Regions from separate parts of the Homo sapiens genome. Here region 1 is linked to region 2. A link means that fine-mapping ties the variant in region 2 to the expression of a gene that starts in the linked region. Tissue or cell type: lung. Region 2 holds a variant in brackets; the other region holds the start of a gene. All regions are shown on one strand. Distances are from middle to middle.

Region 1 (2,762 bases), 22 kb before region 2:
TGAATTACTCCCAATAACACTGGGTTGCAGGCATTAATCCTGTTTTATAGCTGAGGAAAGTGACACTCCAAACAAAAGTAAGCACATATTTATTTTTCACCTTCTATTTGATAGAGACTATATTAGGTGATTTATGTATATTATCTCTCCAACTTGAAAGACACAGTTCCCAGGACTATAAGCATTCTAGCTCTGGAGGACCCGTGTATGCAGAGAATGGCTTGCTTGTTTGTCAACTAAACAGCCCCTTGGAAAAGGCCAAGAGTGGCTGGCTGGGCGAGGGTACCTCTCAGTCTCCAGGCTCCTAGATCTCCAGATGAGTGAGTGAGAGAGCTGGTGGAGATAAGAAAGAGAGAGAATAGGAGCCTAGTCTTTTTTCTCTCTCTTCCTCCACCCACACCCTACCTCCTGTATATTATAACTATATTTAACATCCTATATGCTCCTAGATCCTCTAAGCAACTACTGCTACCCCCAATATCCCTAAGCCTGGGCCTCCTCTAGCATTAGCAGACTGGAAACTTGGTTAGCTGGCCTTTGGGGTGTCTGAGTCCCACAGTCCACAGCTGCCTTATCTTAACCCACCTTATGGCCACTCAGGCCACAATCCCTGGGCTGGATGCACCTTGGTCCACCACTGTCGCCTGTTATCTATGGGAAATGGTACACTCCAGATTTTGTTTTAAATATGTACAGGTTTTGTTTTGCCCTTGATCTTTCTTAAATTTCCAAAGTGAGCACCACACCAGTGGGCTGGCCCTGAGAGACTGCCTCTCTCAAATTTCCAGAGCAGCAAGGAAGTCCATATGTGCCAGGAAGGCAACACTGGAGACAGGACATTAAGTGTTTCCCAACCTAGGCAGGTATAGACTCAGAAAAGGCCTGAGAAAGGAGAGGAGCAATACTGACCAGTGACATGGCACTGTTGTGTACCCAGCACCTGTCCCCTGAAAGATGATGCCAGGAGCCATCACCTTATTTCACCCAGGCACTATCAGTCAGGCAAGACCAACTCCCAGACACTTCACAGAAGTCACCAAAATGAAACATACTAGGCTATCACTGAACAGTCCTAAACTAGAAATCTTAAATTCCAAACAAGAAGCATTCCAAACAAGCTCTGCATAAGAAAGGAAAAGTTCCTAAAGATCCCTCTGATTAAGATGGTCTTAACCTAATCCTCCTTTGTCTTCATCTCTCTTTCCGCCTGTCTTCTCTCTCATTCTTTTCCTCACGTTTTTGACACTAGCCTCTATTTCATCCAGTTGTTCATCTATTCCAACTTTTAGGTTGAGGTAGGAGTGGATGGCAAGGGGAGGTGCATCCTTTGCTCTTCTACACCCACTCTACCACCACCACCTTTAAACCCACGGAAGCAAACCCCACTTACAGCCCCTTCTCCGTTGCAGCCTGCTGCTGCCGCTGCTGTGTGGAATCCAGATCTTCTGCAACCTGGTTTGGGTGAGCTCTCCCATCTCTGGAGACATCTTAGGAGTCGCACCGAATGACATCACTGCCCACAAGGTACCTGGCCTCACTTCCTATCTTACTAGCTGTCTTTTCTCTCGCTGTGGCCACAGCAGCAGGTGGACAGGGCTGGGACAGGGGGTGTACTGGGTTTCTGAGCCCTCTCAAAGTCTGTCTTCAGTCCCCTCTCTTCTTTCCTCTGGTCCTAGCCTGCCTCTGCTCCTGTATGTACTAGTGGGGTATTGGGTGCAGAGGGCGAGAGGTTGGGCAGAGGTCAGGAGAGGCCTCTGAACTCCAAGGGCTGTGTACATAGGAGGTAAGTTGGAGCCCAACAAGGAAGGCAGCCAGCAACACAGCCCAGGTCTGACCAGTCACTTCCCTCCAATGAAGACAAGACTAATAGAGTATGCAAATAAAAGACCAAAGATCATGTGCTTACAGCCTGTGTGGGGTATAGAGGCAAAGGTGATGGAGGTAGGTCTCAGCGGCTTTCCCAGCTTTGAAATAAAAAAATGGGCCCAAGTAGAATGTCAAGCTCCAACCCAGAAACCAAGATTCACATCAGAAATGCAAGGTTCCCAAGGACAAAAACACAAACACAAAGTCCCTACTGGGGAATGCAGTGTTTTGAGCTGGCAATTAGAGGCCCAAACTGGACATGGAAGGTCCACTACTTCTCTGCTTCCCCGACCCAAAATGGCATTGCATCCCTTGTCTTCTCTGGATTCTGCTGCCTTCCTTGCCACAGGGCCTCTCCCACCTGAAATGTGCTGCCTGGAGCACTCTTGAAGAGATGGGCACTATCCGATCATCTTTCTACTCTCTCCAGCCAAGGGCTAAATAAATAGGAGTAAACTGACACCTTTGGAAGAGTGCAGCCATTGCCTGGGGCTGGAGGTGGGGGAATGGTAAGCTCTGCCCACATGGCTGTTAGCCACCATCAGATGCCCTAAGGAGAATGACACTGGCATCATGAACTGATAGAAAATTTCACTAAAGTTCCTCATGCCAAGCTATTAGGATGGAGATTTAGGAGGGTGGAGGCTGCAGCAGGGAACAGAGAGCAATGGCCTCAAAGTAGGACAAGTCCATAGGCCAGAGTCATCCAGCCCAGATGACTCACTCTCACCTGCCCTCTCCCGCTCCCCTGACCCGTTGTTTTGAGGCTTTTATGTGTATAACTCATAGAACTGCACAGCTTGCCTCGAAGATGCACAAGTGTCCTCTTACTTCACTCTTTTGCAACCTTCCCACCCCCAATGAACCTCCAACGATTGGCTATGAAGAAGCTCAAC
Region 2 (2,762 bases):
TGTTGGGAGCGTGAGGCTCCCAGAATAAATAGGTGGAGAGGGCAATGGGCATGGTGGGGCTCTCACCCGGATGGGGATGATGTGGCTGGGGCAGGGGATGACAGGAAGGCCCCTGTCCATGAGTAGCTGGCGCATGTGCTTGACATTGCGCTGGTGGGCTCGCCTCAGGGCTTGGCCCTCCTCTCCCTTGAGCAGCCGCACAGATTCTAGAGCTCCAGAGAGCACCATGGGGGGCAGAGAAGTGGTAAAGATGAAGCCTGCAGCATAGGAGCGCACCATGTCCACCAAGTCACGGGTGCTGGCAATGTAGCCGCCCACACAGCCAAAGGCCTTGCCTGGAGACAGAAAGGAATAAGATATACACAGATCCCATAATCAGTCCCAGAGCAACAGGATCATGTGCCAGATAACACAAGGGGGTGCACCAGAAGTTGGGGCTCCAGGCTGTCTTCCCAGGCCTCTGCTCATCTGTCCATGACAAGGCAGTCGTAGCTGATAATTCTGCTGCTTTGAGATAGGACTTTCAAGTCTTGCCATATGCAATGACTAGATAGGCAGGAGCTGGGTGGGGACCTTTAGCTGGATAGGGTCAGGAGTGGAGCTAAGATGAAGCTTGGGGCTAGGGTGGGGGAGGGGTTTAGAAACACAGCTCTTCACATACTCAAGTTGAATCTAACTATTTGGCCTAGTTCAAGGTCTTTTCAAAAAACTCTACCAGACTTTCTCATCAACTCTGCAGTGGGATGCGAGTGGAGAGAGGGAGTCCAGGATGGCAGCAGCCTGGGGCTGTGAATTCTGTCCAAACAACCCCTATAGCTTTGGGGAGGAGGCAGAAAAGAATTTTGTAAGGGCCTCCTCTCTGGAGGGTATATAAGAAGGCCCAAAGCATTCACTTACCAAGAGTTCCAGAGATGATGTCAATCTTATGCATAATTCCATCACGCTCCCCAATCCCAGCGCCCCGGGACCCATACAGTCCTACAGCATGGACCTCATCCACGAAGGTCAGGGCCCCATACTGGTGGGACACATCACACAACTCCTCGAGGGGACAGATGGCACCTGAGCAAAGCCAAGGGATAGAGGTAGGACATCATAACCCTTCCCCAGCTCCATCTCCAATGTGGAATTTCCCATACATGCCTACTTTGGGTTGGAAAAGGGTGTTGTAGAGAGGAAGGAGGATGTGCGCCTTCATTTAGAACTATTACAAACCTCTGTGTATGGATCGATTGCCTGTATCTCATCCCTGCCTTCTCTCTCTCTCTCTCTGTCTCTCTGTGTGTGTGTGTGTGTGTGTGTGTGTGTGTGTGTGTGTGTGTGTGTGTGTACGTGTGTGTGCGCATGTGTGTGTGTTCCCCAGCCTGGGATCAAGGCTTGACTCTTTGTCTTTCT[G/A]TTTTTACTTCATTCTGACAATGTCTATTTTCCTGTTTCTGCTGTGTTCAGCCTAGCATCATTTCAATGGGAGAGATTCAGCCTAAGGATCAACAGTTTGGGCAGAGTTTGCACCCCAAAAATAGGTAAATAACTATTTATTTGCAAATGTAACGAGGTAGAATGGTACCAACATAGTTTCCACTAGAGAAATAATGAATTTGAATAGTCTCAGTGGTAGAAATATACAAAAGGGATAGGATAGTTTTACTTTATTGCTAGTGTTAGAAATGTGGGAGTGGGCATAATAGTAAGTTTCTTACATATATTAACTCATTTAATTTGCATACCTATTTAATTATTATCACTTACATTTTTCAAATAAGCAACTGAGAACTGAGACACAGAGCAATTAAGAAGCTTGCCCAAGCTAGTAAATGGTCATGCTAGGATTTGAACATGGATAGTCTGGTTTTAGAGCCTGTGTGTATAGTCATTACATGCCACTTAAGATACCTAAATCAGGGAATACTATGGACTCTTTTGTTTCAGTTGGAAAAGGGACAAACTGAAATGAGTTGAGGACCTCTTCCCTTAAATAAATCCATAAGAGGATGCCTAAAACACATGATTTCTACACAACAGGGCCAGCAATAGAAAGCTTTGGACATTGTTTCAATTGAGCAAAGAAAGGAGGTAGGAGTGTGAAGATCATTTAATTCTACTAAAGCATAATAACTAGAATGGTTTCTATCATCTCTAATTCTTACAACCAGATATTTTACCTTTGGGAAAATTGAGGCTTAGACAGTTAAAGAGTTACCCATGGTCATAGCCAGTAACTGTCAAAGGTGGGATTTGAACCCAGGTCTCTCTGACTTGAAAACCTGTTTTGACCCCAATGCTTCATACTGGACCTTGAAAAAAATCCTAGGCAATGGTTTTTGAAATTTCCTTCATAAAAACCAAACACTGGGATTATTGATTTACATATCATTTCTAACAAGAGAAGTGTTACTCGAGGAATTGGAGTTATATGTGTTAGGGTGCAGATACTCACTTTAGCACCAACTTGCTGAGCCACTCAAGATGAATTGGATGCCAACTCTGAACTTTAGTTTCTTTACCTATAAGATGAATGTAATAGCTGCCTCCATTCTTTGGCATTTACTAGCTGTGTGACCTTGGACAAATTACTCTTATGTCTCAGTTTCCTCATGTAAAAAATCAAAATAATAATAACACCTATCACATAGAATTGTTCAGAAAATTAAATGAATTAATACATGTAAAATACTAATAATTTTGCTTGGCACATAATAAACACTATAAATATTAGCTGTTATAATGTTATCGTCATCATCATCATCATGATCATCATGGTTTTT

The links. PIP is the estimated chance that this variant, and not a neighbour inherited with it, causes the effect. A credible set is the group of variants that fine-mapping cannot tell apart.
Region 1: it holds the start of PFKFB1, and the variant in region 2 is the best candidate, but not a certain one, in a credible set for the expression of PFKFB1 in lung (TOPMed, PIP 0.83).

What each region holds. Positions count from the first base shown.
Region 1 is chrX:54,992,521-54,995,282 of GRCh38, forward strand. It overlaps PFKFB1 (6-phosphofructo-2-kinase/fructose-2,6-biphosphatase 1), which reads right to left and starts at 1,668. Exons shown (of 14, transcript NM_002625.4): 1 at 1,391-1,668. The coding sequence starts at 1,487.
Region 2 is chrX:55,014,681-55,017,442 of GRCh38, forward strand. It overlaps ALAS2 (5'-aminolevulinate synthase 2), which reads right to left. Exons shown (of 11, transcript NM_000032.5): 8 at 898-1,062; 9 at 67-335. Among named protein-coding and RNA genes, the nearest start is that of ALAS2, 15 kb to the right of the region's middle. RefSeq lists enhancers at 336-796, 336-738, 500-738. The variant G/A (reference allele first, on the strand shown) is at 1,396.